Linked DNA regions of Homo sapiens. The protein of the gene in region 1 binds, or shares a complex with, the protein of each later gene. Each region holds a gene or a part of one and is shown on either strand. Other genes may lie near its edges. The genes, in order: MBTD1, KAT5, EPC1 and RUVBL1.

What was found.
Region 2: MBTD1 (region 1) and KAT5 share a complex: the UniProt entries of both Homo sapiens proteins name them as parts of the nuA4 histone acetyltransferase complex.
Region 3: MBTD1 (region 1) and EPC1 share a complex: the UniProt entries of both Homo sapiens proteins name them as parts of the nuA4 histone acetyltransferase complex.
Region 4: MBTD1 (region 1) and RUVBL1 share a complex: the UniProt entries of both Homo sapiens proteins name them as parts of the nuA4 histone acetyltransferase complex.

Annotation. Positions count from the first base shown.
Region 1 is NC_000017.11:51,201,035-51,208,060, forward strand, and holds part of MBTD1 (MBT domain-containing protein 1), read right to left. Parts: intron 5,972-7,026; coding exon 5,854-5,971; intron 2,892-5,853; coding exon 2,757-2,891; intron 2,195-2,756; coding exon 2,106-2,194; intron 1,902-2,105; coding exon 1,667-1,901; intron 1,044-1,666; coding exon 988-1,043; intron 663-987; coding exon 558-662; intron 1-557. UniProt on the Homo sapiens protein: Chromatin reader component of the NuA4 histone acetyltransferase complex, a multiprotein complex involved in transcriptional activation of select genes principally by acetylation of nucleosomal histones H4 and H2A.
Region 2 is NC_000011.10:65,708,280-65,715,260, reverse strand, and holds the start of KAT5 (histone acetyltransferase KAT5), read right to left. Parts: upstream 3,010-6,981; 5' UTR 2,994-3,009; coding exon 2,816-2,993; intron 2,496-2,815; coding exon 2,427-2,495; intron 2,340-2,426; coding exon 2,203-2,339; intron 1,941-2,202; coding exon of another isoform or gene 1,914-1,940; coding exon 1,758-1,913; intron 1,669-1,757; coding exon 1,594-1,668; intron 1,488-1,593; coding exon 1,413-1,487; intron 767-1,412; coding exon 518-766; intron 441-517; coding exon 351-440; intron 1-350. UniProt on the Homo sapiens protein: Catalytic subunit of the NuA4 histone acetyltransferase complex, a multiprotein complex involved in transcriptional activation of select genes principally by acetylation of nucleosomal histones H2A and H4.
Region 3 is NC_000010.11:32,288,142-32,295,167, reverse strand, and holds part of EPC1 (enhancer of polycomb homolog 1), read left to right. Parts: intron 1-1,430; coding exon 1,431-1,576; intron 1,577-1,973; coding exon 1,974-2,180; intron 2,181-2,523; coding exon 2,524-2,672; intron 2,673-3,533; exon of another isoform or gene 3,534-3,711; intron 3,712-3,845; coding exon 3,846-4,005; intron 4,006-7,026. UniProt on the Homo sapiens protein: Component of the NuA4 histone acetyltransferase (HAT) complex, a multiprotein complex involved in transcriptional activation of select genes principally by acetylation of nucleosomal histones H4 and H2A.
Region 4 is NC_000003.12:128,099,788-128,106,813, reverse strand, and holds part of RUVBL1 (ruvB-like 1), read left to right. Parts: intron 1-1,889; coding exon 1,890-2,041; intron 2,042-5,165; coding exon 5,166-5,255; intron 5,256-6,069; coding exon 6,070-6,219; intron 6,220-7,026. UniProt on the Homo sapiens protein: Possesses single-stranded DNA-stimulated ATPase and ATP-dependent DNA helicase (3' to 5') activity; hexamerization is thought to be critical for ATP hydrolysis and adjacent subunits in the ring-like structure contribute to the ATPase activity.

The DNA.
Region 1 (7,026 bases):
CCCAGCCACTCTGAAGGCTGAAGTGGGAGGGTCACTTGAGCCTGTGATCACACTACTGCACTCCAACCTAGGCGACAGAGAGAGACTGTCTCAAAAAAAAATGAACAAACAAACAAAAAACCCAAGAATTTCTCTTCTAGGTCTTTTTGTAAGAGCAGTTTCAGATGAGGGGGAAAAGAGAAAAGCAGCAAAAACTACTACCAAAAGGAAGAAAAAGGCCTAAAGAGGAAACACAGGAAACTGAAGATAAACTTGGCCTTGTTACAATTCTGAATTGGACTAGCCTTGTCTAGAAGTAACTTAAATAAATATTTTTCCTCTAAATTAGGATATACTTCCATAAATAAGTGTAGCAGACTCAAAATGACAATCTTGACAATAAACTATGTAAGATCAGAGGATTCAAATTTATTTTGAAATTCCTAGCAACCTTCTCCCCAGTGAAGATATACACATACACATTTTATGTCAAAACGAATATGCTTGGGGACTCCTTCTATTAGCTTATACCCAAATCCTATAATTGCATTTCTATATTTTAAAACCTATTATCTTACCTTTCTAATGGTTGCGACACATATTGTAGAAAGATTTAATGGGTCTATAGCTTCCAATTTCATTCCTTCCTTGAACCATTCCCCACTCTGGTCTACTTCTTTTACCTAAAGAATTATATGAAAGCACATCTACTGTTACAAATGTTGTTATTTTGATAATTAAAATATTACCAATGTGAAAAGATTTACCAGGTGCCTTCTCCTACCTACCTAATATTATAACTCAAACTTCCATTAAGGTTTAGAGAGAATTCAGACAAATAGAATTTAAGAATAATTATAATAAAGAGTTGTGACACCTATGAATTTACAAGGTCTTAATTCTTTTAAGTGAACATATGTAATTGTGATTTCCGTAATTTTAGGAAAAAACCCACAACCCTCTTTCAAACCTAATTTACAAATGAGGGTTCTTATAAAAACTTCTTACCTTAGCAAATAAATGTGGTGGTGTATCAAAATGTCCATCCTGTTTCTTTGTAATATCTACAAGGAAAAGTTACACACTAATCTGTCAGCATTTGTGAGAAGACCAAAAACCACGTTCTTTGAAGGCTTCAAACTCACAAAGTATGTCATACTATAAAACATGGCAAGAAGACATGCCTTCTACATTTGGGGTGAATATTCTTTAATAGTCTTTTCTCTCTTCAGAGTACATGTGCATATATGCTTTTAAATACATTCAGCCAATTTTAATGCTCATAATTTTAATGTAATTCCCTAGTTAGAAAATTACAACTTTAGAAGCATGTTTTCATGTGCTTAGTATTAAGTCTAACCACATTTAATCTTGCTATTTTGATTAAAATTGAATGGAAAGGGAAAGGTATCTTTAGATCTTTCAAATGGGCTGAATAATAAAAGAAAGAAACAATTATAGTTGTGACCAGAAGAAGTTCCTTCTTTTGGAGAACAAGTGGAAGGAATATAAAAAAATTTATTAGGACACTAATATGGTGTGAACCTTCACTAATTAAGGTAGAAGAAGCAGCCCAAACAACTAGAATGCTATTTTTCATCTATGCAATTCTGCAGAGAAAAATAACCAACTAGTATAATCAGCCTCAATGATGCTTTTGACAGGAGTTCTTGTGATAGGTGCTTACCAGATCTTTTGAATCGATGACCTATGCTTCGAGACCAACCAATATGATGTATTAATGGGCTGTGCATATGGCACCAGAAGTCATCTGTTCTATCTTCGCTTTCTTCATACACTAGTCTTAATCTTCCTCCAATTACACTTTCCACCACTGCTACTCGTGTTCGACACAAATGCCTCTTGTCAACCACTTCTACTCTCATGCAAGGTTTGAAAGGATACTGCATACTCTCTGAAACCTTAAAAGCATACAAAAAAAACTGCTCGAAATTCATGACAAAGGTCTACAAGAAATTTTTGTATTATACTGTAAAAAATACTGAATGCACTTGAAATGTAACACAGATCATCTGGTTCACAAAATTAAACCAATTCCTTAAAAATGTTCTCTGTTACCCTTGTTTTTTAGAGCTCTTCAGTCTTTATAAGATCCTGTTTTTTACCTTTTGGGAGAAATCAGGAGGCAGTGTTTTGGCACCAGTAAGTCGTTTCACTAGAAAAGCTTTCCAGTTTGTATATTTATGCTGAATAGCTAAAATAGAAGAAATAATCAGTTATACTTTAGCAAAAAAGAACTGCTTCATAAATTATTTGTTAAAAAAGTAACAAATTTCCTTGCAAAGTCAGGCTATTAACATTCTGAAAAGTAACAAATATAGAGAAAGCAAGTATATGCCTTGCCAGCAAAAAGCTGCTTAACACCAAAAAAACTATTTTAATTTCTTTCTTTTTTTTTGAGATGGAGTCTCGCTCTGTTGCCCAGGCTGGAGTGCAGTGGCGTGATCTTGGCTCACTGCAACCTCCATCTCCCCGGTTCAAGCGATTCTTCTGCCTCAGCCTCCTGAGTACAGGCATGCACCACCATGCCCAGCTAGGGAGAAGTTGAGATGGGGTTTTGCCATGTTGGTCAGGCTGGTCTCAAACTCCTGACCTCAAGTGATCCGACTGCCTTGGCCTCCCAAAGTGCTGGGATTACAGGTGTGAGCGGCCATGCCCGGCCTTTAATTTCCATATTACTCTAACATTACTATGTGTAAAATAGCATTAAAGTACACATATAAAAAAATTACGGTAAGGGTAAATAAACTACTTACTTCTAGGAGGAACAAGAGGTTTTCCGCTGGCTGCACACCAACCAACTGGATGGATATCAGAACCACATATATTGCACCAGAAGTCCAGACCAGAGTCATTTTCAAATCCTTCATATCTTAAAAGGGCATTGTAACCTGAAACCCAGAAATAAATCACTACATAATAAGAAAATAAAATTAAATAAAACAATACAGCATCTGATAGCAGTTGTCAAACTAGTGTCTATCTGCAATACAATCACCTGCAGGGTTTGTTAACAGACAGATGGCTGGGTCTCACTCCAGAGATTCTGATTTTGTAGATCTTGGGTGGGAACTGAGAATATGCCTTTTTAACAAGTCCTCAGGTGATGCTGTTGCTGCTGGTCTATGAACCAAACTTTGAGAACCATCTGTTCAGTGCAAACAGTTCAACTGTTTTCAGAGCATGGCATCCTTACATGTATTTCAATTGTACCCATAATTTCTTTTTCTTTTCTTTTTTGAGATGGAGTCTTGCTCTGTTGCCTAGGCTGGAGTGCAGTGGTGCAATCTTGCCTTACTACAACCTTGGCCTCCTGGGTTCAAGCGATTCTCCTACCTCAGCCTCCTAAGTAGCTGGGATTATAGGCATATATATGTAATTATACATATAACATACATATTTATGTATAAGCATATAAACATATAAAAATACATATTATATATTTATTTATATTATATATAATTATATATATATATATATTTTATGAAGACAGGGTCTTGCTCTATCGCCCAGGCTGGAGTGCAGTGGTGTGATCTTGGCTCACTGCAACCTCTGCCTCCTGGGTTCAAGTGATTCACCTGCCTCAGCCTCTTGAGTAGCTGGGATTACAGGCGTGCGCCACCATGCCCAGCTAATTTTTGTATTTTGTAGAGATGGGGTTTCACCATGTTGGCCAGGCTAGTCTCGAACTCTCAACCTCAGGTGATCTGCCCGCCTTGGCCTCCCAAAGGGCTGGGATTACAGGCATGAGCCACTGTGCTTGGCCTTGAAATGTATTTCAAAGAAATTGCTTTATCCAGCTGCTTAGGTGGCCAATTACTCCTGGGTAATTTGAATGTGGCTACTTTAAGAATCTAAATTTTTCTGTCGTATGTATTTGGAAATAAGATTTGAATATGCCAGGTAAAAAGTTCAATAAACACAAAGAAAATTATGTAAAATGAGTTAAAAACTATGTCTTAGGCAAATAGGAAGGCTTACTCTTGGAAAGTACAAAAAATATGTAATATATCCTATTTATAATTCTATAAACTTTATGTTGATAAAAGATTACGATTTAATTTAAGGCCTTTAATGAAACAGAAAAAGGCCAATATATGTGTATTTCAGGTTAGGAGACAAGTTTAGTCAGCATTTTCATGTTTGTGAAAATTTATAGCCTTAAATGTTCAGTTTTAAAATTCAATAATTTCTCAGAACAATTTATGAGTTTGCTAATTACTGCTGAACTCTAGCTTCTGGTTAACATTAGGCTCACTTCTACAATGGCATTAAAGTGGCTTAAAAGAAGATACATGATGCAGTTAGATAAAACAGAAATGTAAAATCGGAGATGGAAGGCAGAAGTAATTTTTGGATAGTAAATGCACTGATCTTAAGAGCTATTTAAATGTAACTAACTTAAACACCCAGGGCAAAAATAATATGCTGTTGTTTTAAATTACAGTGTAGAGAATAATACAAGCATTTAGTGAATGCTTATACAGCTGGGAAAATGTTTCAAGAAAAAGATGGGGAATTGACTTGGGTAGTAGTACAGTTCAGTACAGAGATGGGACACTCTTGCAAGAGTAACCCAAGGCACAGAGGTGACAAAAACGTGCTGTATGAAAGGGAGAGGGAGACTGGCCTCATCACAACAGATCATTTATGCTGGAGAACTACAATACATCTGGCATGTGGTATATGGTGCAACTCATCAATAGTCATAAATGCTGGCTATCTTGATCCTTTAAGTACAAAGAGGCCATAAAAGATGCTTGAACAGAAAAATAAAATTAAAATAATTTTTAGGTAAATTAAGTCAATTAGCAGTACACAACAGAGCAGTCTACAGTGTGTTTTGAGGAGAATGCCGGAAATAAAACTAGAGAGAGTGGGAGGAGTTAAAAATCTGTCACAGTAGTAATTGAAGATAACTTTTCTTATGAGTGGCTGCCTGCCTCTCCTCCACAATGCCCTACTACACTACTCACTGAGTATCTTGTCATATTAATACCTGGTAGTAGTCAACATTTGGCCGATGTGAACATGCTGGAAAAAATACAAGTCTTATACTTCTGGATATCATCTTTTGTCCACATTGTCTACCATAGTAGATTCCTAACATGTTTACTTCATGAGCAGTAAAGGGCTTGGTATGGTGGAGGCAGTGGGAATAAACAGAACGGAAGAACCCAAGATATATAAAATTATCAACACTTGTATCAATTTGGTATTAAGGTTCTTACCACTTTATTTTTATTTTTTTAAAATGGAGAATGGGTCTCGCTATTTTGCCCAGGTGGGTCTTGAACTCCTAGGCTCAAGCTAACCTCCCGCCTCTGCCTCCCTAAAAGCTGGGATTACAGGCATGAGTCACTGTGGCCAGCTCTTACCACTTTTTTTAGTACCTCAACTTTTGTTACTTTTCAAAGTAACATATACATTATGGCCTATATATCTGGTCTATTGCTGGATTATTTTTATGGCTGTGATCTAAGAATTACTTTTACATTTTTAATGGTTGAAAAGAAAAAAAGGATATTTCATGATACATAACTATTATATGAAATTCAAATTTCCTGTAAATAAAGTTCTACTGGAACACAATCATGTCCATTTGTTTATGTATTGCTAAGGGTGCTTTCATGCTATAATGATAGAGACGGATAGCTGTGACAGAGATCATATGGCCTGCAAAGTTGAAAATATTTGTTTGGCTTTTCACAGAAAACAATTTGCCAACCCCTGCCCTATATCATAACATATTTTTTATTTGGCAATACTTGCAAAATTTATAAACATGCTTTTTTTACGAAAGGTTACAAGGATCTCTGCATTTTCTACTAAACTATTATTCATGCTTTTCACCTGCTAATTTTACAATTCCAGCAATCCAGAAGACTTTGGTAGGTAGGCTGCAGTCTGTATTGGGAACTTCTACTCTCACATTTTCTGAGATATCACCCCAGCAGGTCCCCATAGGTGCCTGTCACATAAAAATCATTAAATTATTGTCTTATTAACATAAAGCCTAAAACATATCAATGAAAATTAAGCAGTACCATCAATAATAGGAATATTAAACTAAAAATGTCATTTTAATTCCGTTTGTTTCCTAGAATTCTATCTGGAAAAAGCCAGTTTCAGGGACAAACAAGATAAAGAGAAAATTCACATATATTAGACTAGATTCATGCTGACTTCAAAATCTGATACTGTCCTAATATGAGATTTAAGCAGCGATTTTTCTATGAGTGGAATTACAAACTCAATAGCAGATTTAATAGGATTAAACTGATTTAAGAAATTTTTAATATGTACTGAGTGAATACACTTCACCCTAATTTCTACTTTTAAAAGATCTGGCCTAAGAGCAGAAAGAAAAACAATTCCAATCAGCAGTGTGGTTTCCAACAACATGAATAAGAGAAATGAAAATTTTCAATTTAAATTAAATTCATAGATTAGAAATCTAGTCCACATAGATGGACGTGAGGGAAAAGCACTGGATAAAGTTATTAAGAAGGTGGAGTTGAAGAGTTTTGGAGATGAGTACCATGGTAAACTATTTAAATTATTATTTCAAAATTTCTCATGTAGAAATTACTATAAAGAGAAAACTTCCAATGTTAGAACCGGTAATCACTAGCCTCCCACAGCAAATGGTTAAGATGGGGACTCGGAAAATCAATTAAATGAGCATCATGAAGGGATTTTCTGAAATCTAACAGATGTTCCCAAAGTATTGTTTCCATTATATTTTAATCTTTAAAACTCAAGGCAATTCACAATTACTTGGAACTTATGCAATGGTAAATTAAATCAAATAAGCAAATTTAAGAATATAAATGCTGATAACACTAAACAGTTTGTGTTGCTCTGGACAGTCAGTTCCTCATTCAATTTAGAATGTTGATCATAAAGAAAAGGATTATGTGAGGTTATAAAAGACTTGATAGTATGAACAAATCAGGAAAAACCAAAATAGCCTCAAAGCTCAAAGATGAGCAAAGATATCTAGGAGTTACATGAACTAGCCAA
Region 2 (6,981 bases), on another chromosome or scaffold:
CACCACTGCAAGAAATCCCCTCAGCCACTTTGTCATCCACCAAGGCTGAAAGGTAACCCTCTATGAAGCTCTGCTGACCACCTCCTTTGGGTCCTGCTAACCTACCCTCTGTTTCATGACACTTAGGACACTGGGAGCTAGAGGTCATTGGTATGACTGTCTCTCCCATGGACTAAGCTGTCAGAGAACAGAGACTGTCTCATTCCTGGCTACCAGCACCTGCCAGACAGCAGGAACTCAATAAAAATGGGCTGGACTGATCTGCTGGCTTGACTGGTCAGTGTTTACCTGAGCAAGAAGAAGCTGTCATTTGATTCACCCCAGCGCCTCACTGCCTCTCAAGCACTAACCTTGTTCTTACGTCCATCAATCTCAAAGAAGGAGATGGTGCCCTTGCGGTAAATCTCATTGCCTGGAGGATGTCGTAGGTCACACTTGGTCTGGGGAAGAGAGGAGGATCAGGAACAAGGGCAACGTGGAGGGTGCTGGGAAGGCAGCCTCCCTGGACCCCTCATACCAAATGACGCTGAAGACACTTGAGACTACGGCCGTACTTGAGGCAGAACTCGCACAGGTAGAGGACAGGCAATGTGGTGAGTTCCTGTGGGTACGGGGAGAAGTACCACGGCTTGAGGCGGTGCCGGCCCAGCTCAATGCACTCAATGTTCTTCATCCGGGTGACGATGTCGTCGTGGCTTCGATCAGACACCAGGCTGCCAGTCATGCGTGGTGCTGACGGTATTCCATCAGAGCTGTCCTGGGAGTCCTGCCCAGGGCCAGTGGAAAATACCAGGTTGTAAGAGACAGCTCAGCAGGACACCACAGCTCACAGCCCTTTGACAGGTTTCCTTCAAGCCTAACAGCAACCCTAAGGGGGAGGTACCATGATCCCCAATTTCCAGATAAAAAACCTGAAACCCTAAAGGATCGATGATGTGGAAAAGATCACCCAATGACCCCATTTTTTAGATGGAGTCTCAGTCTGTCGCCCAGGCTGGAGGGCAGTAGCGCGATCTTGGCTCACTGCAATCTCCACCTCCGGGGTTCAAGCAGTTCTCCTGCCTCAGCTTTCCGAGCTGGATTACAGGCACCCGCCACCACGCCTGGCTAATTTTTGTATTTCTAGTAGAAACAAGGTTTCACCATGTTGGCCAGGCTGGTCTCAAACTCCTGACCTCAGGTGATCCACCAGCCTTGGTTGGACTCCCAAAGTGCTGGGATTACAGGTATGAGCCATGGTGCCCGGCCCCAATGACTCATTTGAACAATGTTCTGCCTGTCTCCTAATCCCACCAACACTAGCTCTGCCCACCACCCCTTCTTTATTTTTAAACTCATCACTAAATAACTCTCCACCCTGCCTGCATCCCTTCCTTTTCACCCAGTTCCCTTCTGCTGCTCCCCAGACCCACCTCATCAGTGCCCAAACAATTCGATTTTCGCTTCCGTCCTGGCTGGGCTGCCACTGCCCTACGGGCGGCTCCATTCTGCCGAGATAGTAGGAAAAGAAGGGATGGCTGTGAAATGAGCCTGAAAAAAGCCACCAGAGAGTAGAAGAGAGGAAGAGAACAAGAGATGGTTTGGGGAACTCACCTGGGGAAAAACCGAGGCCGGGGCTGTCTCGCTGGGCACTGGAGTTGCTGGTGAAACCACCTCCACCTTCCGTTTCTGCAGAGAGAAACCAACAAAGGTGGGTCAGAAGGTAGAGAAGGTGGGACCTGAGAAGAAAGCAAGGTCCCTGGAATTGCTGAGGGTACCGTTGAGCGGTGGTTGGGCTGCAGGCAGGAGCTGGAGGAGAGCGGCTGGTCAGGCTCGCCACCGGGAATGGCCTCCCGCTCCTTGGGCAGGTTGAAGCGGAGTGTGATCTGGACCGGGATTGGCAAGGTCTTCCCGCTGGCCTGCGCCGAGGCCGGCTGTAGAGATAGGTCCAGGGTCTTCCTTTGGGGCGGGGATGGCAGTGGGATGGGGAAGGGGAAGAGGGGTCCCTCACCTCAAAATTATCAAACCCCACCCTCGCCTTCTGAAGGACACAGGACTAGCTACTGGACTCTGGGAGCTACATGTGCAATTTGGCCCCCATCCTTTGCAAGATGAAGTCAGGGTGAGAGGGAGCCGCCTCCTGCCCATCCAGGAGCTCCTAATGCCAACAGACAAGAGAAATAGGAGGCAGGAGAGAAAAGGTGAAGTGGGGGACCTACTCACCACCTCTCTCTCTGGAGAGCCAGGACGGGACCCAGGAAGTCCGTTCTTAGTGGGGGTCTTGGCCTCTTTCTTGGGGAACTGGATCTTCTTTAGGTCCAGCCGCTCATGCGTCACCCATTCATCCAGACGTTTGTTGACTGTAGCAGTGGGGATGGCTCAGGACAGAATGCCAAAGACTGTCCCCCAACCCTACCCTGATGCCCCACCTCAGGCCCAGAACTCACAGTCAATGTAATGGACGTAGAAAAGCTTCCGGCCACTGATGTCCTTCACGCTCAGGATCTCGGCCAGGGCTATGAGAATAGCATAGACAGGGGCCTTAGACAGGCCAGGCTATGAGACTCCACCCTTCCACGACCTGAACTCCACCCCCAGGCCGGATCCCTAAGCTCCAGCACTTAGGTCTCTCCTAAGCCTCCTTCAGTCACAAGTGCCACCCCTTTCCAGGCCCCGCCCTGTACCTCTCGGAGCAGCTAAGAGCCACGCCCCTTCATCAAAGTATCTGCGCCTCGCCCGCCCCATAATTCCAGACGCCCCTCCCCATCCCGGGATTTCAGTTGACTCCCGCCCCTCGCCCTCAGGTTCCTTAGTCCCGCCCCCCAACGTCACTCACGCCACTCATCTTCGTTGTCCTGGTTCCGCCGCAGCACGGGTAGGCGGCAGCCCTCGATTATCTCCCCCTGGGGAGACAGCGCGACGCCAGGGTCGGCTACTGGGGGGCCTCGGGCTCTACCCACCTCCCCTGGCTCCCTCCGCCCCGCCCCGGGCACCGGACTCACCACCTCCGCCATCTTCCCTCCCTCCACTGCCACTTCCGGCCCCTCTGGGAGACGTCACTTCCGGGACCGAGCGCCCTGTGGGCCCGGGCCTCACGAAGCCCCTGTAGAGGGGGACCTTTGAGAGACACCGCGACCCAGCTGCGAGGGGCAAGACTGCCCCTGTGACTCGGGGGAAAACGGAGTGTTACAAGCCTCAGGCCGAGCCCTAGGTGGAAACCCCATAACGTGCACAGCCAGTGGCGGTCTACTGAGTCCGTCACGTGACGCCCACCGGGTGCGAAGCTGGTCACGTGTATGCGGAGCGGGTCACGTGGCAATACCGTTTTTGGCTTTGTCGGAGGGAAGTCCTCGGGCGTCTCCTTGTGGCGGCGGGAGGTGTTGCCGGGAGTCAACTGGGCGCGAGAGGCTGGAGAAAGGAAGTGGCCTTAGAAGGGTTCGAACGCTCCCCCAAGTCTGTGGACTTCATTCCGTAGGCAAGAGGACTCAGGGAAGATTCCTAGCTTTATTTTGTATATTAGGCTTTTTTAATTTGTATATATTTATTTTTGAGACGGAGTCTCGCTCTGTCGCCAGGCTGGAGTGCAGTGGCGCGATCTCAGCTCCCTGTAACCCCCGCCTCCCGGGTTCAAGCGATTCTCCTGCCTCAGCCTCCCGAGTACCCAACTAATTTTTGTATTTTTAGTACGGGCGGGGTTTCACCATGTTGGCCAGGATGGTCTAGAGCTCTTGACCTCGTGATCCGCCCGCCTCGGCCTCACAAAGTACTGGGATTACAGGCGTGAGCCACCGCCCTCAGCCATATTAGGCTTTTTTTTTTTTTTTTTTTTTTTTTGAGACAAGGTCTGGCTCTCTCGCCCGGGCTGGAGTGCAGCCAGCGAGGCACAATCTCCGCTCACTGCAGCCTCCCCCTCCCGGGATCAAGTGATCCACCTCAGGCTCTCTAGTAGCTGGGACTACAGGCGCGCACCACCAAGCCTGGCTAGTTTTTTAAAATTTTTGTGTAAACAGGGTTTGGAGACTGGGCATGGTGGCTCACACCTGTAATCCCAGCTGCCTCCAGTCTAATCATGAGAAAAACATCAGACAAATCCCAATTGAGAAACATTTTACAAAATACCCCATGAATACTCCTCAAAACTGTGAAGGTGTCACCGGTGGAGGGTGTACAGGTTCTTGGCATCTAAAATAATGGGACAAAACGGCTGGGCGCGGTGGCTCACGCCTATAATCCCAGCACTTTGGGAGGCCGAGGCGGGCGGATCACGAGGTCAGGAGATTGAGACCATCCTGGCCAACACGGTGAAACCCTGTCTCTACTAAAAATAAATACAAAAAATTAGCTGGGCGTGGTGGCAGGCGCCTGTAGTCCCAGCTACTCGGGAGGCAGAGGCAGGAGAGTGGCGTGAACCCGGGAGGCAGAGCTTGCAGTGAGCCGAGATTGCGCCACTGCACTCCAGACAGAGCAAGACTCTGTCTCAAAGAAAAAGAAAAAAAAAAAGAATTGGACAAAATGCACAAAGCAAGGAAGGAATGAACGATTTATTGAAAATGAAAGTACACTCCAGTGTTGGGGCCGGCTGAGCATAGGTGCTCAAGGGCCCAGTTACAGAATTTGTTGGAGTTTAAATACCCTTTGGAGGATTCCATTGGTTATTTGGGATATGCCATATGTAAATGAAGAGGATGAAGTAAAGTTACAAAGTCATTTAGGGTGTACTCCCTAAGGAGAGGATATTTCCTGTCATAACTGAAGTGTGAATCAGCCTTATATGTTCCCTGCCTCCAGACCCTATTTTCCTGCCTCAAAGGTGGCTGAACATGGTGGCTTACGCCTATAATCCCAGTGTTACAGGAAAGGGGTCCCCATCCAGACCCCAAGAGAGGGTTCTTGGATCTCGTGCAATAAAGAATTCAGGGCGAGTCCAGCACTTTGGGAGGCCAGGCAGGTGGATAACCTGAGGTCAGGAGTTCGAGACCAGCCTGACCAACATGATGAAACCCCATCTCTACTAAAAATACAAAAATTAGGCAGGCGTGGTGGTGCGCGCCTGTAATCCCAGCTACTCGGGAGGCTGAGGCTGGAGAATTGCTTGAACCCAGGAGGCGGAGGTTGCAGTGAGCCAAGATCAGGCCACTGCACTCCAGCCTGGGAACAGAACAAGACTCCGTCTCAAAAAAAAAAAAAAAGAATTGAGGGCGAGGCCATAAAGTGAAAGCAAGTTTGTTAGGAAAGTAAAGGAACTCAATGCTGGTTGCCCATTTTTCTGGTTATTTCTTGATGATCTGCTAAGCAAGGGGCGGATTATTCATGCCTCCCCTTTTTAGACCATATTCGGTAACTTCCTGCCGTTGCCATGGCACTGGTAGGAGTGCAGCAGTGAGGACAACCAGAGGTCACTCTGGTGGCCGTCTTGGTTTTGGTGGGTTTTAGTTGGCTTTCTTACTGCAACCTGTTTTATCAGCAAGGTCTTTATGACCTGTATCTTGTACCGACCTATCTTATCTTGTGACTTAGAATGTCTTAACCGTCTGGGAATGCAGCCTAGTAGGTCTCGGCCTCATTTTACCCAGCTTCTATTCAAGATAGAGTTGCTCTGGTTCATGCAACTCTGACACCGAGGCAGGCGGACAACTTGAGGTCAGGCGTTCAAGACCAGCCTGGCCAACATGGTAAAACACCGTCTCTACTAAAAATACAAAAGTTAGCTGGGCACGGTGGCATCCGCCTGTAATCCCAGCTACTCAGTCAGCCAAGATCGTGCCACTGCACTCCAGCCTGGGCAACAGAACAAGACTGTGTCTCAGAAGGAAAAAAAAGAGGCCGTGCGCAGTGGCTCGCTCCTGTAATCCCAGCACTTTGGGAGGTCAAGGCAGGAGTTCGAGACCAGCCTGGCCAATATAGTGAAACCACATCTCTACTAAAAATACAAAAATTAGCTGGGCGTGGTGGCATCTGCCTGTAGTCCTAGCTATTCAGGAGGCTGAGGCGGGAGAATCGCTTGAACCCAGGAGGCAGAGGTTGCAGTGAGCCAAGATTGTGCCAGTGCACTCCAGCCTGGGCAACAGACAGAGACTCCATCTCAAAAAATAAATAAAATAAAATAAAGAAAGAAAAGAAAAAGATGTTGCTCAGGCTGGCCTCAAACTCCTGCCTGCAATCCGCCTGCCTCAGCCTCCCAAAGTGCTAGGGCCACCGCACCCTGCCATTGTTTTGTATATTAGGTTTCTTTTTTTTTTGGTCCAGTGGCTCACGGCTGTGATCCAAACACTGGGAGGCTGAGGTGGGAGGATCGCTTGAGCCCAGGAGTTACAGACCAGCCTCGGCAACAGAGCGAGACTCTGTCTCTACAAAATTTTTTTTTTTTAATTAGCCAGGCGTGGCGGTGGCCCTCGCTTGTGTTCCCAGCTACTCAGGAGGCAGAGGAGGGAGGATCGCTTGAGCCTAGGAGTTCCAGGCTGCAGTGAGCCGACCACTGCACTCCACCCTGAGTGACAGACAGACCCTGTCTCAAAATAAATAAAGACCTCTTGCCCTTAGGGCGCTTACATTTTTGGAGTTTGGGAGAGAAGAGGACAGGTATAGATTGTCCACCCTCAGCAATGTCACCATCCCTGCTGGGCCACATGCAAAGTGGATAGCAAAGAGAAAGACAGGACTCACCCTTCTACGTTAGCTCAGAGTTTTGGCTGGAAGGGTGTTACAAAAGTGTTTGCTTGAGAAAACTAGCGCCTCCTCAGACTGAGTCATCTTCAAAATAGCACTTGCTTTCCATTCTAAATGTCACCAGCACAGAGGACCCCAACTCCATTTTGCCATTTTCAGCAGAGTTTGCAGAATTCACGGAGACACATGGGTTGCTTTATCATAGGGACAATCATGGTAACACCTAGAGATGATGCACTTGGGGGTCGGGCATGGTATTCAGCACATGATGGGCATCCAAAAATCAATAGGTCTTCTTAACCACTAATAGTGTGCTTAAAGATTTTCAAATATCCT
Region 3 (7,026 bases), on another chromosome or scaffold:
TGCCTCTCCCTAAAGAGATCACACACATTCTAATAGGGAGGCATGCTTAACAAGCAGATTATAAAGTATGTGAAGTGGGTTCTTAGCCACTAAAAAAGATGAAAGTGGTTAGGAACCACTTCTTGGGTGGGGAAAAATCAAAAAAGGATTCTAGATGAGTGATACCAGGCTGGGTGCTAAAAAGAATAAATAGGCATTTGCCTCCTTGGTGGGCAAGCAGAAAAACAGGGATTTTTGTAAAGGCCTGCAGTCATGAAATAGCATACTGCATGAAATCAATGAAATCTGATGTTACTAGATCATAAAGAACTGATAACACTGGAGAGAATAGGAAAAAAGGGCCTTATACCATTCTAAAGATGTGGACTGTAATGTTAGTAGAAGGAATTAAGTAAGGGAAAGATGTGAGACAAATTTTTATATTAAAGCTATTTAATATTTTGCTTATATTCATATCAACCTAGCTTAATTTTGGTAAGTAATTAAACAACATTTGATAGTAGCAGCGGTTCTTGCAGATCTAAGATCCTCCCATTTCCATCAGCATGACAGTGTTCGCGTAGAGAAACAAACTTCCTAGGCAGGAACATACTCACCGAGTGACAGCTGCTGAAAACTCAAAATCTGAAATGCTCCGCAGTTCGAAATTTTTGAGCACCAATGTGATTCCACGTGTGGAAAATTATACACCTGCCCTCATGTGATGATGGGTCACAGTCAAAACTTCACGCACAAAATTATTTAAAATATTACATAAAATCACCATCAGGCTATGCATATAAAGTATATGTGAAAAAAATGAATTTTGTGTTTAGACTTGGGTCCCACCCTCAAGAAATCTCATTATACGTATTCAAATATTCCAAAATCCAAAACACTTCTGGTCCCAAGCATTTTGGGTGAGGGATTCTCAACCTGTACTGTTATTGGTAGTGGCTTCTAACACTTCAACTTTAAAGACCACTCCCTTAGCTTTTGGTAAAGTAGTTGAATAATCTACAAAATAGGACTTAAATATTATAGAAAAAAATCTTAAAGGCCTTCTCCTTTTATATTATAAAAATTGCCTATGTGATGATTTTTGAGCTATAAAAATGGCACTTCACATGGTTCAACCAAATAAGTTTTAATGATCGCTTTATGTTCTTAATAGGCTTCTAGTGTATTTGCTTTTAGGAGTGGTTGGAGGGTGTCGCATCCATTGTCTTTTATTACTTATATGTATATTCATAGTAAAGATAATCTCCTTTCTTTAACTTTAAATGTGTAAGACAAATCTAAGCTTAGATTGTTTGCGACTCTGAAAACAAAATCCAAGAATTCTTTCTTATTTCTTTAGAAAGTCTAGGTCTTGTTTTTATGCAGACATCTGTGGAGTTTTTGTCGGTGAATTCACACAGTAAATGATTGCATATGGTTCCTTCTGTCAGCTTTTAGTTTGGATGCTGAACAGCCTGATTATGATTTGGATTCTGAAGATGAAGTATTTGTGAATAAACTGAAAAAGAAAATGGACATCTGCCCATTGCAATTTGAGGAGATGATTGACCGCCTAGAAAAAGGCAGTGGTCAGCAGGTACAACTTCATTTGTATATAACAAGTATATACATATTCTATGTAAAGAACTGTATTGTATGGAAAGAGTGTGAGATTGCAGGTTGGGGGTAATCAGTCAGGCTTTAGAGTTAAAAAGTATGAATTCAAATCTCATCTCTGCTTATCAGTAACCTGTGTAATCTTGAGCAATATGTTTAAATTTTTCTGTGCCTTGGTTGCCCTGGGATTGTCGTAAAGATGAAATAATGTATATAAAGCACCCTAGTTCAGTGACTGACAGGCATAATGTACTCCTCAAGTTTCCCATTTGTTAATAATGTTGTAATATTGATTATTGTCCTTTAAATTTAGAAGTAAATACTTATGAACCTTGTATGTGTATTGTATGAAAATGACATAATGGTTTTACATTTAGCCAGTCAGTCTGCAGGAAGCCAAACTACTGCTAAAAGAAGATGATGAACTAATTAGAGAAGTTTATGAATATTGGATTAAAAAGAGAAAAAACTGTCGAGGGCCATCTCTTATTCCATCAGTAAAACAAGAGAAGCGAGATGGTTCCAGCACAAATGATCCTTATGTGGCTTTTAGAAGGCGTACTGAAAAAATGCAGACTCGAAAAGTAAGTGAATTTGAAGAATTTTTTTGATAATTATATAATAAAAATTATTTATAGTTATGACTGTCTCAATACTGTGGTTTAATTTATATTCAAATATGACTTTCCAATTATAAGAAAAATACTTAAATTGAACTTAAGATTTATTATGCAGCTATTAATGTTATATTTTAATGTTAATCCATTTAAAAATCAATACAAAATTGATTTCCTGGTGATCTGTGCTCCCTTTTATTGTCTTTAAATTCTAATTTAACCCTTCAAATATATAAATTTTATGGGTCAATAACTATACCACTAGTTAGAAATACTTACTAACATTAAACAAGCAACTTCACATTTGCAGAATCGCAAAAATGATGAAGCCTCTTACGAAAAAATGCTTAAGCTGCGACGAGATCTAAGTCGAGCTGTTACTATTCTAGAGATGATAAAAAGAAGAGAAAAAAGTAAAAGAGAGCTATTGCACTTAACACTGGAAATTATGGAAAAGAGGTAATGTATATTTTAATAATGTTAGAGGAAGTATAGTGCCATTAACATTTTGTATATTGAGTTAATTTATTTCCTATGCAATAATCTAATTACAGAAATATCTTTTTTTAATAATAGAGACTTTAAATATGTGGTATGATACTTTTTATACTTTTACATGTTTTCCTCTATTTTCTTTAAAAGTGACTGGATTCACTTAAGTTAAAACATACCAAGTATTTCCATTTCAAAGTGGTCTTTTTTGGTCCTTGAGTTGCATGTAGGACTTGAGTTAATTGATAGTACTGCTTCTTTTTTAATGCATATAAAATTTAAAACACTGGATTGTTAAATAGAAAAGGGTAAAGAAAGAGGGAGAAAGGCCCATATATCTTACCACTCAAGCATTTGGCAAGGTACACAATGAAAACTTAAAGAAAACTTCTGCCCTATTTCTAGTCCCTATCCCCAAAGAAAACCACTTTTAAATTTCTTGTGATTACTTTTAGAAAAATTAGTTTTAAAGCCCAGGCAATTCTAATTAGCAGAAAGATCCTTAGCACCATTTTAGGCATTACTTTCAACTTCACCAAATCTTTCACCAAAATTGCTACATTAAAATTCCAGCTTTTGATTTTTTCCCAACAATCCTCTATTTATATGCCATGATAAAGCTATAAGCCAAAAAAGTAAAAGGAAGAAACAAAAGGAATTATGTAATCTTTGAGAGAAATTGAATAGTCAAAGTTTAACTACAATCTTGCCTTAAATGTAATTGGTGTTTATAATTATATCTCAGTCAGCTAGTTATTAATGGTTATAAAGATAAATACTTATAAAACTAACTTTCCAAAATTTTCTTCTTTTTCCTGCTTTATTTAGGTATAATTGACAAATAAAAATTATATATTTTATATGTTGGTCAAAGGGTACAGACTTACAGTTATGAAATGAATACATTCTGGAGACCTAATGTACAGCATGGTTAATAACAATGTATTATATACTTGAAATTTGCTAAGAGTAGATCTTAAGTAATCTCACCACATATACACACAAGGTAATTATGTGAGGTGATGGATATGTTAATTAGCTTGATTGTGGTAATTATTTCACAGTATAAATGTATATCAAAACATCACATTGTATTCCTTAAATATATATAATTTTAAACTTTCATTTGTATAATTTTAGGTATAATTTGGGCGACTACAATGGAGAGATCATGTCTGAGGTTATGGCACAGAGACAGCCAATGAAACCTACTTATGCCATCCCCATCATCCCTATTACTAATAGCAGTCAATTTAAACACCAGGAAGCAATGGATGTGAAGGAGTTCAAAGTTAATAAGGTGATTAATGTTTTTGTGATAATAGTATCTAATAATGGGATGGTATTTTATCATTAGAATGAAAGTTAAAAAGAAAAACACACATAGGCCGGGCACAGTGGCTCACGCCTGTAATCCCAGCACTTCGGGACACGGAGGTGGGTAGATCACCTGAGGTCAGGAGTTCGGGACCAGCCTGACCAACATGGTGAAACCCCGTCTCTACTAAAAATACAAAAAAATTAGCCAGGTATGGTGGCATGCGCCTGCAATCCCAGCTACTAGGGAGGCTGAGACAGGAGAATTAATTGAATCCAGGAGGTGGAGGTTGCAGTGAGCCAAGATCACACCATTGCACTCCAGCCTGGGTGACACAGCAAGACTCCATCTAAAAAAAAAAAGATAAAAAAAGAAAAATACATATATACCCCACCTTAATGTATACTGCAATGATTGTGCCACAATATGAAGAAAAGCAGAAGTCTATAATTAAAATTTTATTTTTGTTTCTCTTCCTTATAAAGGGAAGCTTTTGTTACTATATCTGATAAAAGGAAAAATATTCCTTTTACAAGTTGTAGGATTATGAAGTATTGAAATAATTCATACAAAATATGGAGAGTTAGGGAGAAAGACATGAAATCCTCCCTGATCAGATGAGTTTTTCTTTCTTTCTTTTTTTTTTTTTTTTTTTTTTTTTGACAGAGTCTTGCTCTGTCACCCGGGCTGGAGTGCAGTGGCCGGATCTCAGCACACTGCAACCTCCACCTCCCGAGTTTAAGCGATTCTCCTGCCTCGCCTCCCCGAGTAGCTGGGACTACAGGTAGCACGCGCCACCATGCTGGGCTAATTTTTGTATTTTTAGTAGAGGTGGGGTTTTGCCATGTTGGCCAGGCTGGTCTCAAAACCCCTGACCTCAGGTGATCCGCCCGTCTAGGCCTCCCAAAGTGCTGGGATTATAGGCGTGAGCCACTGCACCCAGCCTCAAATGAGTTTTTCTGTCTTTTGTGGACACAATAGTGTATAAGAGGGAATTTTGATATCTTAATAGTAATATAATGATTTAGAAATGGAAATATTTGACAAATTAGTACTTAACTAAGTCACAATTTGTGAAGAATAAAATTTGTGAGAGGAAATAAAATTAGTGAAGGAAAACTGAGGTAAATAAAGGAGAGCCATTAATTAAGTGGCACTTTCTTGGAAAGTGTACATCTGAGGAAAAAGTACGTTATGCATTTTTTGTATGAAATTTTTCATGGCCGGGCACGGTGGTTCATGCCTGTAATCCTAGCTCTCTGGGAAGCCGAGGCAGGCGGATCACAAGGTCAGGAGATCGAGACCATCCTGGCTAACACGGTGAAACCCTGTTTCTACTAAAAATACAAAAAAAATAGCCGGGCGTGCTGGTGGGCGCCTGTAGTCCCAGCTGCTTCAGAGGCTGAGGCAGGAGAATGGCGTGAACCTGGGAGGCAGAGCTTGCAGTGAGCCGAGATCGCGCCACTGCACTCCAGCTTGGGCTACAGTGCGAGACTCCGTCTAAAAAAAAAAAAAAAATTTCATGAAACTTTGCATCTACCATACCAGTTTAATTTGAGGAATGGGAAAATTTGCCATCAGTTTTATCTCCCCTGCATCATTTAATATCATGCTCACTCAGGTTTTTTTTTTATTGTGGTAAACAGACCTTCAAGCCTGAATGTACAACCTGCCACACAGTTAGAATGAATGATGATTTCCCCAGCCTGGACTTTTTTTGCAGGGGGAGGCGGGGAGTTATTTAAAGCAGTGCCAGGGACCAGACCATTTTGTGAAAAAACATGGACTTTTTTTTTTCCCACTTTGTTAACATGGACATTTTGATTTTTAAAAAACGTAGGGGAGGGTGGGAGGGAGAGTAGAGTTATTCTCGTTATTCTCTTCAATGATCTGGAAAGTTAGAGCTGTGCCCCAAAATACTGTTTTAGTTTACTCATGTAAGTTTTTATTTAAATTTTGCATTTATTTAAATTTTATGTCCTGCATTTGTAATATATTAGTTCTAAATGTATCTTTAAAGTTTAATGGGATTGTTCCCACTGTTACTTTTTTTTTTAAGGCAGAGTCTTGCTCTGTCACCCAGGCTGGAGTGCAGTGGCGCAATCTTGGCTCACTGCAACCTCCGCCTCCTGGGTTCAAGCGATTCTCCTGCCTCAGCCTCCCAAATAGCTGGGACTACAGGCGCATGCCACCACGCCTGGCTAATTTTTTGTATTTTTAGTAGAGACAGGGTTTCATCGTGTTAGCCAGGATGGTCTCAATCTCCTGACCTCATGATCCTCCCGCCTTGGCCTCCCAAAGTGCTGGGATTACAGGCATGAGCCACCCCACCCGACCTCCCACTCTTAACTATTTTAATGTGGTCCCCCCCTCTGAGCCCTACATGATTTTGTGGACTACTTTAGTGTTATCCTTCAGTTATCATATTTTAAGATTAATTATCCTATTATTTGCTTTCCTCTATATGTGCCACTCATACTTGAAAGTTACTTTAGGCCGGGTGCAGCAGCTCATGCCTATAATCCCAACACTTTGGGAGGTAGAGGCAGGCAGGTCACTTGAGGTCAAGAGTTTGAAACCAGCCTGGCCAACATGGCGAAACCCCATCTCTACTAAAAATACAAAAAATTAGCGAGCGCAAATTGCTGTAAATGGGTAGTAATAGCACCTAAGCATAGCATAAGGCTTTGAATTAGTAGGTACTTGGGAGGCTGAGGCAGGAGAATCACTTGAACCTGGGAGGCGGAGATTGCAGTGTGCTGATACCGCACCACTGTACTCCAGCCTAAGTGACAGAGCAAGACTCCATCTCAAAAAAAAAAAAAAAAAAAAGAAAAAAGTAATAGATAATAATGTAGTCCTCAAGCACTGCCCTAGCTGACAGCTGATGTTAGCTTTTAAATAATGTTTTGCATTGCCATGGCCAACTTTTGATTTGATTATCCTGTCAAATACAACAGTAGAAATTGTGGAGAGATGCCTTATGGTTTGGGAAAACCGTAG
Region 4 (7,026 bases), on another chromosome or scaffold:
GTTGAGGGTGTTTCGGTGATACAGGCTATAACATTACATGGCTGACTCCTTAGAGTTCTCAGGCCATTACCATATAGAACATGTAAATGTATCTGCAGGTTCGTTTCTTGGGTATTATTAGTAGATGATGTGCCTAATGACAACCCCTTCACTCTTAGTGACTTCATTCATTCATCCATTCACTCTACCTGCCTATGTGCTGTGCCCTCAGCTCAGGTGTGGGCAATCTGCAGAGGGGTAGGCAAGGTCTGCAAGTTATGGCATTGCCGTGGGCTGCTGCTGTGCCAGTGGAAACACAGGTCACCATGGGGACAATTTGGAGGATGAGGAAGAAGAATGTGTGAAGGGGGGGGGGATACGTTTTAAACTGAGTCTGCTAGGAGGAGTTGCCTAAGCTAAAAAGAGTGGTTCAGGAAGCAGAACCGTTATATGCAAAAGCATGTAATGAACATAGAGATCACGTTCTAAAAGTTAATTTAACAATGATTCTTGGATAATGAACAAACGTTTATTAAAGAGCTAATGTGGATGATGTTTAGAATTCAGAGAGAAATTTACCTTTATTTGCAATATTCTAATGTAAGGTGCTTTGGAAATTGGTTTTGTTGTTATGGCCTTAGAAAAACTGTAGAGCAGCTGGGAATGGTAGCTCACACCTGTAATCCCAGCACTTTGGGAGGCCAAGGTGGGTGGATCACCTGAGGTCAGGAGTTCAAGACCAGTCTGGCCAACATGGTGAAACCTATCTCTACTAAAAGTACAAAAAAACCCCAAAAATTAGCCAGATGTGGTGGTGCACGCCTGTAATCCCAGCTACTTGGGAGGCTGAGGCAGGAGAATCACTTGAACCTGGGAGGCGGAGCTTGCTGTGAGCCAAGTTCGCACCATTGCATTCCAGCCTGGGTGACAGAATGAGATTCTATCTCAAAAAAAAAAAAAAAAAAAAAAGAAAAAGGGAAAGAAAGAAAGAAAGAAAATTGTAGAGCAACACATTGCAAATAATGCATGACAACTGGGTATTTCTTCTTGGAGTATGCAGTGAGAGCCAGAGGCCCATAACACCTGGCAGTTTTGAGTGTCACCCACTGTTGACATAGATACCTAATTATTTTAGTATGTTCTGCTCAGGTTTCATAGTGTCAGAGGGTGTGTAATGAGTTATTCCACTGGTTTTAAGATTTCCTTTGAGAGTCAGAAATTCAGGAAACAAGGCTACAGGAGTTTTGATAGCCACTGTTCTGGTGGAATAGAATAGTGTGGGTTCAGAGACTGGATTAAAGGCTAAAGGTAAATTTCACCCCCTTGGAAATGAAGCAGACAATTTTAAGAATTATAACTTGTCTATCTAGTTCTGGATTTGAACCTAGAAAGTTCCCTTAAAAAGTTGCATTTCTAGGCCGGGTGTGGTGGCTCACACCTATAACCCAGCACTTTGGGAGGCCGAGGAGGGTAGATCATGAGGTCAGGAGATCAAGACCATCCTGGCTAACATGGTGAAACCCTGTCCCTACCAAAAATACAAAAAAATTAGCCGGGCGTGGTGGCGGGCGCCTGTAGTCCCAGCTACTCGGGAGGCTGGAGGCTGAGGCAGGAGAATGGAGTGAACCGGGGAGGCAGAGGTTGCAGTGAGTCGAGATCGTGCCACTGCACTCCAGCCTGGGCAACAGAGCGAGACTCTATCTCAAAAAAAAAAAAAAAAAAAGTTGCATTTCTAATAGTGCCTCTAATTTACATTGATATGTTTGTATTGCCTTTTTACCCATCATGACACCCTGGAATGTACATTATTAAGGTTGATTTGGCAGTTCTGGTGACATGGAAGTTTTGGGCTCTCAGTGTGAGAGAAAAGATTCTGCTTCTCACCATGGCCCCTCTGCCACCTCTTCCAGGGCTGCGAATAAAGGAGACCAAGGAAGTTTATGAAGGTGAAGTCACAGAGCTAACTCCGTGTGAGACAGAGAATCCCATGGGAGGATATGGCAAAACCATTAGCCATGTGATCATAGGACTCAAAACAGCCAAAGGAACCAAACAGTTGAAAGTGAGTACATGTATGTGGCCTCTTTTCCCTTGACTCTCCCAGCACTGTGTGGCTTTGGGCAGGTGGTGTAACCTCTCTGCATCCCAGTTTCCTGACCTGTGCACTGCAGGTATTGATTTCTCACAGAATTGGTTGAGGATATTGTGTGTATAAAGCGGTACCTAGCATAGGGCTTGCACATAGGAGGACTCAAGGAAGATAGCTCTTTTCTTACTTACTCCTAGGAAACTCTGCATGTTAAAATGTGAGCTGTGTGGTTAAGTCAAGAAACTGCCTCTGCCATCCCATGTCCCATATTATGACCATGCATCAAATACCCTGGGCTGGGTCTGAACCTGGGCATTAATTTTTCCAGTTATCAGTGCCCATGCTCATAGAAAGAAACAGCATTGAGTAATCAAATAAGAGTTGTATAAAGATGATGGATGGGCTTCCCAGGGGCCACATGCAGAATCCTGACTGCAGTTGCTTGTGTCAGGAACCTGTGGTCGCTTCAGTGGCTGGTTCTGTTTAGTACAGGGCTTTGTGGAGAGGCCAGAATGGTGACACTGGATAGCGCTCAAAGACAGTCCTCAGCCACCTGTCCTGTAAGTCTTTAGGATGGAGGCAGTAGAGTTTCTAGGGGAAGAGCATGAGTTTTGGAGTCTAAGTCCTTAAGGAATCCCTGGCTTTGTTACTTACAACTGTGTGGCATTAATCTCTGAGTAGTAGTTTCTTTATTTGTTGAATGGGAATAATAATTGCCTGTCTTTCAGGGTTATGGCTTTGGGTGTGGCACCTAGTTACCTAATGAATGATAGCTGTTAATGTTATCGTGAGAGCCTTCACTTGGAGAAATGGAGCAGTCTGGATTTTAGGCTTTGCCTTATTATTATTAATAAATATTATCATTATAGCTCTCATTTATTGTATGTGTCAGGCCTTGGACTAAGTGCTTCAACAAACATTTATTGTCATTCATAACTTTATATGTGTATATGTTTGCGTGTGTGTATGTGTGTATAGTTTTCCTCATGTTAACAGATGAAGGCTCATAAAGAGGTTACATGGTTATCCTGGGATCATCCAGCCAGTCATGTGGCAGAGCTGACCCTCTGAGTCCTAACCGTTGTACTGTCTGCCCACCAGCTTGCTGTGTGACCTTTGGAAGTCAGTTGAGCTCTCTGGGACTCAGTTTTCTCATCTATAAACTGCAGGAGATTGACCATATAATTTCTCCATTTTTATTCTGTTCTACGATTTTATGGTTCTTTGATTCTCTGAGGTTGTTTCTTGGTCACTGCTTTATGGAGATCATAAAAATGTCACTTCTTCAAAGGGCCATTTTTCTTTTTCCTAACAGGGTTTCCATCTCAGGAACTTGCCTCTGCAAATATCTCTTTTATACCTACCCCTCGTCACTTCCATTCTGAATTAATTAGATTTCTCAGTAGCATCTGCCACCTTTCCAGTAATTACATCTTCAGTCAATTCATTTGGGAAATTAACCGATATAAAAATGCTTGAGGCAAAAAAGAAGTATATTCTCCAATGTAGGACAGATAAAATAAGGCGTACAGTTTAAATTTCAGCTATTTGTAACACTGCTTTGTACAGTTTCTTTACAAAAATAATGTAGAGGAGAAGATGAAATTTTTCTTCCAAAATGAATACTTTTAGGTATTTTTAGAATATGTACAAGATATTTGGATAGAAGGTGCTCAAATACTTGGTGGATATTCAAGTCTGAAGGAGTCTTCTGAGTTCTAGCAACGAGAATGCCATTAGTACTCATGACCCCTTCCTGCCAGGCCTTACCTGGGGGCCTCACCCACTTTTGTCCTTAGGCGCACAGACTCACAGCAGTTCTGCCAGGGTCTGCCGTCCCCACCCAGCTAAGGAGAGGCAGAACCCTGGGTTTGCTGCTGTGGTGGTAGTTTTTTAAAAGCTTTATTCAGATAGCATTTTAAATAAAACTCACCCATTTTAAGTATACAATTCCAGGAATTTTAATTTATTTTCACAGTTGTACAATCACCACAATCTTAATTTCAGAACATTTTCATCGCCCCAAAAAGAATCCTCCTACTCATTTACAGTCATTCCCCATTCCAACTATAGCCCTCGGCAACTACTAATCTACTTTCGGTTGCCTTCTTTTGGACATTTCATATAAATGGAACATACAGTGTATGTCTTTTTTTGTATCTGGCTTCTTTCACCAAGTCCTGGGTTTTCACTTTTTAATTTTGTTTGGGCAAAGCCCAAGTTTTTTTTCCACCATAGCTACATTGTATAACATAGATCTCCATGAAGACCTCGAGAAACTTGTGTTTAACTATAGAATCCTTACAAAGGCAGCTGTCCTAGAATATTAATCACTGAGGGTCACCAGAATCTGGAGAAAAGCAACAGTTCCGCAAATCTGCTTATTTCCTTTCCTGGAGATATAAGCAGGCAGACCCAAGGGCACAAACACTGGGATGTGAGTCAAAAGGCTTGGGAAAGATTCTCATTTATGTTTTTCTTTGAATTACTGTATACATCTGTGATTGCACCTGGGTGCTGTTGTATAGATGAGGAAACTTAGAACTGAGAACCTTATCCAAAATCAAAGGCCCTGCAAGATGCCAGCTTTGAGATTGGTAAGCAGGTGCTGGCAGGTACTTCAGTTGTGGAAAGTTCCACCCCACCTGAGGTGAGGCAAATGAAGGAGTGAAGTAGGGATGATGATTTCAAGAGGGGTGATAGGGCCTGTGGTCCTGTGGACAGTGGGGGCTGGGCCCACCCGTCTCACGGCAGCCAGGACCATCCTTATAAAAGCGCTGCTGCCAGTTTACAGCCTTTGGAATCAAGGGAAAGAGGAGAGTACGTGTCCCCTGTGTCCCTCTCATGCTCGTTACATAGGGATGCAGGTATGCTGGCCCCCCTATTTTCTCCCTGGTGTGCTTAGTCCCCCAGCCAGTCTGTTGTGTGGTACTTATGCATTCACACTCCTGCAGGTCCCAGTATTCATGCAAACGCAAAACAGGCTTTCTCCATGCACCTGCTAGCTACCTCAGATCCCTTACGGAAAGGTACCTTACATGGTGTCAGAAGGAAATGGAATATGTATTACACTTCTGATTTACATTTTTTTTTTTAGCTGGACCCCAGCATTTTTGAAAGTTTGCAGAAAGAGCGAGTAGAAGCTGGAGATGTGATTTACATTGAAGCCAACAGTGGGGCCGTGAAGGTAATGCCTTCCTTGGGACACAGCATTGTCCCTGATTTGTTTGCCATGAGAAGACCTAAGTGACAAGGGAGTTGCTTTCTTCAGAGGGTGTGGGGTGTGTGGGGAGGGGCTGGTGTCTGTTATGAGGCTGATGGAAGGTCAACTAGTGGCCCTTTATGTATAATAAAGTTTGCCTTCCCTTTATCTTCATTCTTTAACCTTCTCGCGATTAAAACAGATAGTCTGTTAGAAAAAATACTAAAACCTGTTCAGAGGGGGAGGACAGGGTGAGAAACCAAAACAACTTTAGTCACTTTCAAATTGAAATGTGCAGTGTATTTAATCTTCCTTTTATCTCTTTGGTATTTTCTTCCCAAGATATATGCATGTGGGAAGGAACGCTGCATTCGTTGGCATTCTTTTCTATCTGATTTTCAGGGTCCTGTACAGTGTTCCTCACTGTTTAATGGATGGGCATAATACTTCATATCATACAATAAATCATCCACCTACAAAAGAGTCTGAGCAGCTCCTCTGCCTCCAGTTAATCTACTGGATTTGGCCTTTATCAGGAATTGCATACAGTTAAAAGAAAGAAGGGAAAAAGGATTTTGGGAGAAAGTATCAGGTGTTTTTCAACCCAGTTTTTGGAGCCCAGCGATGAGCAGATAGCTCCCTTCTCTTGGCAGCAGGGGAGTGGGGCATATTTGGAGTTTGTCAAGTAGGCTGTCAGGCCTGCAGTGGGAACTGAGACCTTTATCTCACTTAGCCCTGTGCCATTTGGGGACTTGGCAGTGAAAACTTACCAGGCACTCATGTTTCTCTCTTTTTGCAGAGGCAGGGCAGGTGTGATACCTATGCCACAGAATTCGACCTTGAAGCTGAAGAGTATGTCCCCTTGCCAAAAGGGGATGTGCACAAAAAGAAAGAAATCATCCAAGATGTGACCTTGCATGACTTGGATGTGGCTAATGCGCGGCCCCAGGTACTGCCTCGATGCCTGGGTGATCTGGCACATTAGCCCTTTTGTATGTGTGTGGAGATCTGGGAATGAATTGTCAGAGTCTTGCTGCCTTTCTTGAGGTAGACGGTCCTTTTCTATCTGTAATGTTCAGCAATTAACATCGACATGAGCTACGAGGGACTCCTTTGTTCCCATTCAAATGCTCTAGTCACAGATGATTTCATGTGTATTGTTTCTTATCCCAGCCAAGCCTCTGGCCCTGAGCTAGCCAGCTTCCTCCATGGCTTCACTCCAGCAGTGGGCTCACACCTGGGATTTTCTGGGTGTTAATGGCAGGAGGGCAGGAGTGTTCTATGAGCCCTTTACAGGATTTCAGAAAGCCTAACAAAGCTCTTTCTTTCCCCCTGCTTAGCAAAAGCCACAGTGTTTTAGCTTTGAGCTGGTACTGTTGTCTGCTTCTCATACAGATGGATACTTATGCCTTGGCTAGTAAAGTGCAGGAAAGGATGTTATCACTATATGACATTTCTAGGAAATAGTGAATAGTCACTATTAGGGAATAGTTTGTTTTCTGACTTGAAATTTGATCCGTGGGTGTTTTGTTCCTTGGAGCTTTGGTCAAGAGATTACTGAAGACTCATCTTGGACCAACAGGTCCCCTTGGTTGGTGAAATGGCCATCCCCAAACTGACCTCCTGGGAGCCCTTGACCTGAGAAGAGTGCTGGGCTGGGAGTCAGAAGTCAGGAACTGTGTTGCTCCATCACTGACCAGCTTGGTTAATTTGTCACTTTGGGTCTCTGGGTTTTCTGTGGTTTGGGGTTCGGTTT